Linked DNA regions of Homo sapiens: region 2 is linked to region 1. Evidence: fine-mapped expression QTL. Tissue or cell type: whole blood. Region 1 holds a variant in brackets; the other region holds the start of a gene. All regions are shown on one strand. Distances are between the middles of the regions.

The links. PIP is the estimated chance that this variant, and not a neighbour inherited with it, causes the effect.
Region 2: it holds the start of ZNF212, and the variant in region 1 is fine-mapped to the expression of ZNF212 in whole blood (TOPMed, PIP above 0.99).

Annotation. Positions count from the first base shown.
Region 1 is chr7:149,303,472-149,309,399 of GRCh38, reverse strand. No RefSeq gene overlaps it. Among named protein-coding and RNA genes, the nearest start is that of TRC-GCA1-1, 3.8 kb to the left of the region's middle. The variant C/T (reference allele first, on the strand shown) is at 3,104.
Region 2 is chr7:149,236,681-149,242,399 of GRCh38, reverse strand. It overlaps ZNF212 (zinc finger protein 212), which reads right to left and starts at 2,749. Exons shown (of 5, transcript NM_012256.4): 1 at 2,598-2,749. The coding sequence starts at 2,621. RefSeq lists an enhancer at 2,688-2,982.

The DNA.
Region 1 (5,928 bases):
TAGCTCTTGGAATACAGAGGAGAGGGTGTAAATTACACACCTGACCAAAACTAGGGTAATGGCATGTTCCCTATTCAAAATGGGCTTTGCGTTCTGAAGGGCTTACTTAAACAAGGCAGGTGGGAAGGAATTCCATGTGAAAATGGCAGCAAGAGCAATGGATTCAGGTGCAGCCTTGACAAGAAAGTTCAAGGATGGTCATTGCACAGTGTTGGGTGAGACAATGGGGGAGGATCTTAGAGAGGCATCGAGGCCCAAGGCCTACAGTACAGCAGGACCTCCTTGCAGAATTAATAGTCAACATGGGCCCTGAGTGTGACCCCACTGGAGAAAAGGACCCATAAGAACTGCTGATGTGTTGGGGCCACAGCTTAGGGCACTGGACTGTAGGTCAAGAAGTTGGGGTTCAAATCCAGGTGGCTTCTCCCTATTCTGGCTTTCGCACATGAATGCCTTCCCATATTTTTCATATTATAGCCCACTTAAGAGACGAACTCTGGTATTCAAGGGTGGTCTTCACTGTGCATGTTCGCCAAGAGGCAAGGTCCCTGCTTTGGATTGAATGGGTCACCTAAAAAGATACATTGAAACCCTAACCTCTGGTACCTGTGAACGGGACCTTATCTGGAAACAGGGTCTTTGCAGATATAATGAGCTCAAGATGAGGTCATTAGGGTGGGCCCTTATCCAATATCACTGATGTCCTTGTAAGAAGAGGAAAGGAGACAGACACAAACACAGAAAGAATATCATGGGAAGATGGAGGCAGAGACTGGAGCGAATGTCTGTAAGCCAAAAGCACCAAGGAGCAAGGCCACACCAGAAGCCGGGAGGAGGCAAGGAAGAGCTCTACCCAGCGTCTCCGAGGAAGCAGGCCTGACTGGCACCTCCACTTCTGACTTCTGGTCTCCAGAACTGTCCAAGAATAAACTGCTGTTGTTTCAAGCCACTCCATTTGTAATACCCTGTATGGCAGCCCTAGGGAATTAATACAGTCCCCACGCAGGGGGGCTACTTGGTCCCTGCATCCAGGGCAGGGACTGAAGAGAAAAGAGTGAAGCCGCCTGACTGGGCCTGATCACCTCCAGGCTGTGAAATTCCAGCTTCTCCAGCCTGGCTGGCCTGCGCAGATGTGGGGGTTCCTGGGATTGCTAGGGCTGCGGCCTCTCTGGCCACGAAATAAATAGCTTTCCCTGGAGACCTTGGCTCCCCAAGTAAGAGGGAGGGCTGAGTAAGGGAAGGGAAGGAAATAGCCCAGATCAGGAGAAAATAAGTGGACCTCACTGCATGTGGCGAAGTAGAGAACTGTTAGGAATGCTCCGTGAAGGCTGAGACGCACACACCACACAAAACCCCATTCCTTACCTATGAAGCCAGGAGGCTGGCCCAGACCCTCACAGGTCCTGTCCACCACCTCTCACCTGCAGGAAGCAAGTGAGGAGGAGGCCGCAGTGCTCTGGGAGCGGGGCGGAAAGGGCTGCTCCGCAGCGGGGTGGGAGTCCTTCGGTCCTCCTTACTGATGGTCCAGCTGGAGCCGTGAGTGTGGCCGCCTCCTTGAGTGCTAACTGAGACCTCTTTTCTCTTGGACCTGCCTAGGACTCTGTTTTGCCATTTGTTAAATGGGGATGTAAAAGCCCTACAGCGGGGCGCAGTGGTTCACACCAGTAATTCCAGCCTCCAGGCTGAGGCTGGAGGATTGCTTGAGCTCAGGAGTTTGAAACCAGCCTGGGCAACATGGCGAGACCCCAACCTCTACAAAAAAAATTTTTTTAGATTAACCGAGTGTGGTGGCATGTGCCTGTGGTCCCAGCTACTTGGGAGGCTGAGGAGGGAGGATTGCTTGAGCCTGGGAGGTTGGGGCTGCAGGGACCCATCATCACAGCACTGCATTCCAGCCTGGGCCACAGAACGAGACCCTACCTCAAAAAGAATAAAATAGAAGGTCCTACAATTGTGAGGATTAAATGAGAACCTTCATTTTTTTTTAACTTTTATTGTAGGTTTGGGGTACATGTGCATATTTGTTATATGGGTAAATTGCATATCGTGGGGGTTGGGTGCACAGACTATCTTGTCACCAAATAATAAGCATAGTACTCAATAGGTAGTTTTCTGATCCTCACCCTCTTCCCTCCCTCCACCCTCCAGTAGAACCTGGTGTCTGTTGTTCCCTTCTTTGTATCCATGTGAAGATGTTTAGCTCCCACTTCTAAGTGAGAACATCCAGTATTTGGTTTTCTGTTCCTTTGTTAGTTCACTTAGGATAATGGTCTTCAGCCCCATCTATGTTGCTGCAAAGGACATGATCTCATTCTTTTTTATGGCTGCATAGTATTCCAGGGTATACGTGTACCATATTTTCTTTATCCAGTCTAAATGAGAACCTCTACAGCAGGAATCAGCAAACCGTGGTCTGTCACGGGGCACAGCCCCACAGGCTACGAATGGATTTTACCCTTCTCAATGGCTTGGTTGGGGGGATGGGAAATGGGCCCTCATGGGACTTGGGGAAAAGTAAATGAAACAATTGTTGTTGTTTTTTAATGGCACAGAGTAAGTGTTCAATAAATATTTGCTGTTGCTTCAAAAAATATTTTGTGGCATGCAAAAATTATATGAAAATCAAATTTCAGCATCCATAAATAAAGTTTCCTTGGAACACAGCCACTCTGGTTCATTTCTTTGGTGTCTGTGGCTGCTTTCCTGTTAAAAAGGCAGAGCTGAGTGGTTGCCAACAGAGACTATTTTGCCTATAGAATAACAAACATGTACAATCTGGCCCTTTTCAGAACAAGAGTCTGACTCCAGGCTTACAGCCTTAGAGTGGTGCCTGACCCATAGCAAATGTTTCATAAACGATGGCTAGTGTTGTTATTGCAGCAGAGAGTAAGCACGGCTCACTGGAGAGCCTAGAGTTCCCTGCCTCCCATTCCAGTTTCCCTGACTTTCTGGCCTCATTCACAACAGCTGCAACCCCAGCTCCCTCTCCTCCTCCAGCCTCATTCTCCAAGACCTCCAGGTAAACTCCTTTAAGATGCTAAAAACTACAAAGTCTGATACCACACTAGGGATTCAGGGTGTATGGGGAACAGGCATGTTTCTG[C/T]GTTGTTGGTAGGAGTGTACACTGATACAACCTCTAAGGAGGCACCTGGCAAGAACTTTTGAAATGCTAAAAGCACATAACTTTGACCCAGGAATTACACTTCTAGAAACTAAGAGGTCTATAAACACAATTGTGAAATGATGTCTGCAAGGTTATTCTGTAGCCACATCATTTTAAATTATAAAACATTAGAAGCAACCTAATTGTCCCTCATCTGGGGACTGTTAAATAAATTACATACAGCCGTACAATTGAATGCCAGGCAACCCTTTACAAATGGGGATGCTCTTTATGTACTGATAGGGAAAGATTGCCAAGAAGAAACAGAAAAGCAAGCAAGGAAAATGTGTTTCCGCCATAGCCTGCTACTGTTTGTAGAGGGGAAGAAAAGGGGAGATGACATGTTTGCATTTATGTCATGAAAAAACTCTAGAAAGATCTACAAGAAACTGGGAACATCAATTGCTTGCGAGGAGGGGACATGGGTGGCTGGGGACAAGAGTGAGAGGAGATACCATTGTTTCTGTGCCACTGGAATTTTGAACCATGTAGATATATTATTGTGTCAATATTTTCTTACCTTTCTAAAAAGGAAGAGAATGTAACAAGAACAAAAACTCACCGGAGCCTAGGTGTCACCCCTTCTGTGATGGGGTCACACCTCATCTCCTTCTCTGCCCCCTTCCCATTGGGCCTCTATGTTCCCACACAAACATGTACCTTTTTTCCTAACAAAAAGTAAATATAAAATACTAAAACACCCACAATATTTTTTAAAAATACTAGGAGTGGCCGGACATGGTGGCTCATGCCTGTAATCCCAGCACTTTGCAAGGCCGAGGCAGGCGGATCACCTGAGGTCAGGAGTTCAAGACCAGCCTGGTCAACATGGTGAAACTCCGTCTCTACAAAAATACAAAAATTAGCCAGGCATAATGGCGGGTGCCTGTAATCCTAGCTACTCAGGAGGCTGAGGTGGGAGAATCACTTGAACCCAGGAGGCAGAGTTTGCAGTGAGCCAAGATGGCACCACTGCACTCCAGCCTGAGAGACAGAGTGAGACTTCGTCTCAAAAAAAAAAAAAAAAAACAGGAGTAATATGATTCCCAAACCCAGTTGTCTGTATATTATAATAAAATACAAATTAAAAAGGACACATACTTGCAATGTCCAGGAACCCTACGTTAAATTTCCCAAAACACTGACTCTAGCATGAGTGTAGTGATTTGTTTCTTACAGGCATCCCCGCTGGTCTAAGCCTTGGGGACCCTGCCTTACTTGCCTTGTAGCCCCATCACCTAACACATAGCACATGACTCGGGCTCAGCAAATATTTCTGGAAAGATAAAGGCCAATCCAAGCCCCTGGAGGGACGCCTTCTCCCGCCAGCAAAAAGAGTTAGTACCTCCTGGGGCCCACAGCGTTCAGCAAACCCCCAGGAGCATCCACACAGAGAAGAATCCTGTGGGGTGGTGCCGGCAGCCTCCACGCAGCCCGAAGGAAGCTGCAGCTGGTTCACCGTGTCCTATGAGCTGTTCACTCTCCAAAACATCAGCAATTGACCCACCATGAATCCACTCAGGCTGCCATAACAAGACGCCACAGACTGGATGGCTTCAACAACAGACATTTATTTTCTCACAGTCCTGGAGGCTGGAGGCCCAAGATCAAGGTGTCAGTGGTACTGGTTTCTCCTAAGGCCTCTCTGTGGTGTGCAGGTGGTCACGTTCTCACTGTGTCCTCACACGCCTTTCCTCTGTGTGTGCCCATCCTGGTGTCTTCCCCTTCTCATAAGGACGCCAGTCCTCTTACATTGGGGCCCCACCCTAACAGCTTCTTTTTAGCTTCATCACCTCTCTAAAGGCCTCATCTTTGAATATGGTTACATTATGAGGTACTGAGGTTTGGGACCTCAACATATAAATTTGTTGGGGGGTGGGGGTGGTGGCTCACACCTGTAATCCCAGCACTTTGAGAGGCCAAGGCGGGGCAGATCACTTGAGGTCAGATGTACGAGACCAGCCTGGCCAACACAGTGAAACCCTGTCTCTACTAAAAATGCAAAAATTAGCTGGGCGTGGTGGCACCCGCATGTGGCCTCAGCTACTGGAGAGGCTGAGGCAGGAAAATTGCTTCAGCCCAGGAGGCAGGGGTTGCAGTGAGTCGAGATTGTGCCATTGCACTCCAGCCTGGGCGTCAGAGCGAGCCTCCATGTCAAAAAAAAAAAAAGGGAGGGGGAAATAATTCAACCCATAATGCACACAAAATGAATCTGGTCATGCTGTTGCCTTCCAGAAACTTTTCTTGGTTACTGTTATGGACTGAATGTCTGTGTCCTCCAAAATTCATATGGTGAAGCCCTAATCCCCAAAGTGATATTGTTTGAAGGTAGGGCTTTTAGGAGGTAATTAGGTTTACATGAGGTCATGAGGGTGGGGCCCCAGGGTGGGATTAGTGCCCTTACATGAAGAGAGACCACATCTCCACATCTCTCTCTCTCTCTCTCCTTTTCTCTCCCACTCTCTCTCCCTCTCTCCCCAACATGTTGAGGATGTCTGCAAGCCAGAAGAAGAGCCCTAAGGAGAGCCAGGAGAGAATCTGCCCACATCTTGATCTTGGACTTCCAGCTTCCAGAACTGTGAGAAATAAATTTCTGTTGTTCAAGCTGCCTAGTCCATGGTATTTTGTTTTAGCAGCCCGGGCTGACCAATACCGTCAACACAGTACTTTTTGTTGTTGTTTTGTTTTTGTTTCTGCTTGTTTGTTATCTAGCACTAACATTTTAAGATGGCAAGGGTAAAATGGGATTTTCCACATTTTCAATC
Region 2 (5,719 bases), 67 kb after region 1:
CCATTCATTTTGCTGTACTTCATTTCAAGGTAGTCTTTTTTTTTTTTGGTTGCTTTTAAGAATTCCCTCTGCCTTAGGCCGGGTGCGGTGGCTCATGCAGTGGTAATCCCAGCACTTTGGGAGGCCGAGGCAGGTGGATCACCTGAGGTCAGGAGTTCAGAGACCAGCCCAGCCAACACGGTGAAACCCCATCTCTACTAAAAATACAAAATTAGCCAGGCATGGTGACGCATGCCTGTAATCCCAGCTACTCCGGAGGCTGAGGCAGGAGAATCGCTTAGAACCTGGGAGGCAGAGGTTTCAGGCAGCCAAGATTGCTCCACTGCACTCCAGCCAGAGCAAGAGAGCGAGACTCTCTCAAAAAAAAAAAAAAAAAAAGAAAAGAAAAGAAAAAGAAGAAAAGAAAGAAAAGAAACGAAACTATGGCCAGGCACGGTGGCTCACGCCTGTAATCTCAGTGCCAAGGTTTAACAACTTACTTTGCAATCATCTGAAGGTCAGACCTTACTTTCAGTTCACCCTTACACAGAATGTTACCCTTTGAACTCTCTGCTTCATGGGATTGGGTTAGGGAGCTTCTTAGACTTTCCATCTTAGGCTCTGAGATGTGTGTTCCATTTTGCAGGTCCCTTGAATCATAAACACCAAAGATGAATGTTTGGCCAATGCCCTCAAAGTTGGCTTCAGAACTCTATCACTTTCGAGTTTCCTCTTTCGCTTAAGTTTTGGGGCTCCAAGTATTCTTTACTAAAATACATTTCAAATGCATTTATGTGCAGGGTTTTCCAGCATTTTCAGTTGTTTCATCAGGGCACCTACTTGAGCTTACTGTTAAATGACAGACACCTGAAATGTCTGAGAAGAGAAACAGGCTCAAGAACAATTTGAATAAGTTCTACAACGACAGATTCATGTTATTTAAGGCATAGTTTGGGATTGTGGTGGACTTTTTTTTTTTTTTTTTTTTTGAGACAGAGTCTTGCTCTGTCACCCAGGCTGGAGTGCAATAGCACGATCTCAGCTCACTGCAACCTCCACCTCCCAGGTTCAAGCGATTATTCTGCCTCAGCCTCCCGAGTAGCTGGGTCTACAGGCACCCGCCACCACGCCCGGCTAATTTTTGTATTTTTAGTAGAGACCGGGTTTCACCACATTGGCCAGACTAGTCTTGAACTCCTGACCTCGTGATCCGCCCTCCTCGGCCTCCTAAAGTGCTGGGATTACAGGCATGAGCCACTGCGCCTGGCCTGTGGTGGACCTTTAAGGCTTCTTCCTAACAAGGTCTACTGACGACATGTAGGTAATTGTGGAGTGACCTGGCAGGAAGAACTGTGGCAGAATCCTCTCGCCGGACTCTAACACTAACTAGATCTTGTGGAAAAGCCAAGTCTTTGACTGGCTCAGCCTAGCTTATAGGAGTCAGATGAGGTTAATATTGTAAACATTTGTGTCTTGTCTTCCCAATTCAACTGTTAACTTCCTTGAAAGCAAATACTGTGTTCTCTAAGTCTCCCAATCTCTCCGTTCTTAGTTCTTAACGCACTTTCTACAAGAATCAAATATAGCGCACCCTGCTCATGGTCAAATTTTCCCCACAGAATTTCCTTAGCCCTCCATTCTCACAAAGATCTAACATGATTCTCGAAGTGTTTCTAGACCAAGGAACACTTCATTAAAAGTCAATTCAATTCCAGCTGCCCCTTCCGTTGCAAACCCTCTGGTGTTGTTAAATTAACCACTACTTTGAAACAGTATGGGAACAGTATGAGAATGTCGGAGCTGGAAGGAAACTTAAAGCCTTGGAGATCATCTAGCAACTACTCCAACACTCTCGATTTACAGTTAAGAAAACGAAAGAGACCCAGAGAAGCGAACACAGTTGCCTAAAATCACCCAAATGGACAGCTGAAAGCTTCGTGACTCCACAAATAGGATTTTCCTCACACCAAACTCCGTATCTTGACATTCCCAGAATGGGGATGGTCGGTGGGCTGGGAGGGGGGTGTTGGGGGGGGGGTGAAGGAGAGAGTTTGGGCAGCTCTACAAACAAAATGCAGCAACTGCACTGTAGATAACATCCGTCCCCAAGGAGAAGCAGCCCAGGCTGACTTCAACCTGTGGCTGCAACCCCCAGACAGAAATCTGCAGCACTGGAAAAACCGACAACACATCGGACCGAAGAGGAGGTGGTCGCAGAGAGGCAAGTCCTGGGGTCTCCCGGGCAGCGGGAGAGCTCACTCGTAGCGACGGAGACCGTTTCCAATCTGGAAACACTCCAACCTGGGAACGGGCTCTTTTGGCACGAAAGAGAAAATGTGTGGGCAGGGTCACAAATCCACCAACCTAAAGCAAGCGTCAGAGAAGTTTCTGGGCAAGGGCGCACGGCGCCGAGGCTCCGACCCCGCTGCAGAAGGAAGCGGAGGGAAAAAAGGGCAGAGCACTGGGGTCGCGAAGAGGAGGGTCCGCGTTCACCCGCGCCAACGGCAGCCCCGGGAAACCAAGACCCCGGCGGCGTCCAAACCGCGAAGCCCCGCCCCCGGCAGGGGACTCCGCCATCCCCAACGCGCCCTCGAGCCAGCGCGCCGGTGCCTCTTTACCCGAGCAGGCGCCGACTCCGCCATGGCTCCAGTCGCCCCTCAACACCCAGACCCCGCCTCGGAGCCCCCGTGCTGCGTTCCTGTCCGCTCGGCGCCCCAGAGCCTGTTGGAAGCCGCCGCCGCCGCCGCCGTGTTGATGCCAGGTGCATTCTGGGAGCAGCGACCTCCCCGGCACAAGACCGGCTCCAGCCGCTCTTCCTCACTGTGCAGGCTTCCCATTGTGCCCCCGTGCGGCGGGAGGGAGAACGCTGCTTGGCACTCCCGGCCAGAGTGCGGGCACCAGGAGGGCTCAGTCACTCAAAAGTCAAGACCAGGTTCCGCGTTTCAGGCAAAGCCACGGGATCCTGCTGTCTTCCGTATGCCCAGCACTCTGCTAAATGCTTTGAGGGATTCAAAAATGTGTACAACTCAGACTTTTTGCTGAGGAAAGAACATGTAATGTTGTTGGGGAAAAGAAATATGGTTCCAAAAGGCAAGTGATTTTATTCCAAAAGTTCACCTGTTATTTGGCTTTTTAGAAACTGGGAACAGTTTCCATATCAACAGTGTGGAGCGTGGGGTCAGGCCCAGGCCAGCCCTCTGTAGCCTGTTAATTATGGTAATCATGTGCCTTGGAAAGTCCAAGACAACCCTGATTTCAAATATTTCCAGTCCTCATGCTACATGTAAGACGATGTGTCTGGAATTTTTGTTGGAAAGCACGGCCACATGACCATTTAATCGCCATGTACTTAATCCCCAATACCAGCAACACTACGGCAACCATAGCTGCCTAATTTATACCATTGTCTCTCTGGAGACAAGCAATGAACTTCCACTTCACAGGATAGGCGTGAAGTGTTTCCTCTGAGAACGAAACTTTTTTTTTTTGAGATGGAGTTTCGCTCTTGTTGCCCAGGCTGGAGTGCAATGGCGCAATCTCGGCTCACTGCAACCTCCACCTCCCGGGCTCAAGCGATTCTTCTGCCTCAGCCTCCCTAGTAGCTGGGATTACAGGCATGTGCCACCACGCCTGGCTAATTTTGTATTTTTAGTAGAGACGGGGTTTCCCCATGTTGGTCAGGCTGGTCTCAAACTCCCGACCTCAGGTGATCCGCCCACCTCAGCCTCCCAAAGCGCCGGGATTACAGGTGTGAGCCACCCCACCCGGCGGAGAACGAAACTTTTAAGATCATGACTGGCTCCTTCCTCACATGCAGGGCTCAGTTCAGATTCTACATCCTCAGAGAGATATCCCCAGTCCCCCCTTTCTACAGCCCCACACCATCCTCCATCTCAATACTCAATCTCGTTACCCTGCTGGAAATTTTTCATACCATTTATCACCATCTGAAGTAATCTCTCTTTTTCACTCATTTACATATTAATTATCTGTATCTCTTCCACTGAAATGTCTGTCTACTGTATCCTCCATTTGTTGTACACAGAAGTGTTCATATTTGTAAATGATTGAATGGTGAATCAGAGTGTAAGGATATGAAATGTCATCTCAAACAGAGGCATTATTTCCAGGGCAACTAGATCAACGGGCACGTCACTGAATCATTAATAAATCTAGAGAAAGAATGGGCCAGGCTGAAGAAACCGGTCAGTCAGGGAGATCCTGTCCAGAGGGTCTGACCTAATCTCTCAGACCAACAAACTCTTGGTGTCAGATACAGAAAAAAAAAAAAATGTGTCATGGGTGAGGTGGCTCATGCCTGTAATCCTAGCACTTTGGGAGGGCAAGGCAGGAGGATCACTGGAGTTTGAGACCAACCTGAGCAAATAGGCAGACCCTGTCTCTACAAAATTAAAATTAAAATTAAAATGAGCCAGGAGTAGTGGTGCACACCTGTAGTCTCAGCTACTCAAGAGGTTGAGGTGGAAGAATCATTTGAACCCAGTAGTTCAAGGCTGCAGTGAATCACGATCGCACCACTGCACTCCAGCGTAGGCAACAGACCAAGATCTTGTCTTTAAAAATAAAATAAAAATGTTATCCTCCACAGGCACAATATCAGGACATAGGATGCTGAGGTCATTAAACAGTTCGGTCGTAGAACTCATTCCCTCTATTCTATTTCTATACTCACAAGGCAACCTTCTGACGTTGCATGTTGCCAGGTAGCTTCTGGGAGGCAACATGCAGGTGAAGCTGATGCACATGTATACCTCAGTCTCTTGAAAATGAGCATGTTTCAGCATCCCAGACTCTGAGCCTGGAAGTCTGGAAAAAGGTTCAGATCAAATTTCCAGCCTGCAAAGGAGGCAGCACCAGGCACCAGGGTTGCAATCACGTGGGCTGGTGGAGATGGTGTGGCGCCTGCAGTCCCCCGGGCTGATGAAGACAGTGTGGCACAGTGATTTGCTAAGTGGGGCTGGGGAGTGAGACCGTCTGGGTCCCTAGCCCAGCACTGCCAGTATATTAGGTTTCTCTAGACAGACTAATAGGATATATATATAATGTTATATAAAGGGGAGTTTATTAAGTATTAACTCACATGCTCACAAGGCTCCACAATAGGCTATCTGGAAGCTGAGGAGCAAGGAGAGCCAGTCTGCGTCCCAAAACTGAAGAACCTAGAGTCTGATGTTCGTTGATGTTCGAGGGTGGGAAGGGTCCAGCATGGGAGAAAGAAGTAGGCTGGGAGGCTAGGCCAGTCTAGTCTTTTCACATTTTTCTGCCTACTTTATATTCTAGCTGTGCTGGCAGCTGATTAGATTGTGCCCACCAGATTGAGGGTGGGTCTGCCTTTCCCAGCCTACTGACTCAAATGTTAATCTCCTTTGGCAACACCCTCACAGACACACCCAGGATCAATACTTTACATCCTTCAATGCGATCAAGTTGATTCAGTATTCACCATCACAGCCACTTACTAGATGTGAAACTTGGTCAGGTCTTTAACTTCTTAGTACTTGTTTCCTCATGATTATTGGTGAATAGATAACAGTACTTAGCTCATAGAGTTGTGTGAATTAAATGAGTGAATTCAAGTCAAGTGCTTAGAACAGTACCTGGCACAGAGGAAGAGCTCAAGAAGTACTCATGATCATTATTGTTGTTTAGTCCCAGATCCTTCATTTACTAAGTGCTGTGGCTCATGCTCACTCTGCCCTAGTGTCCTTGTCTTCCACTG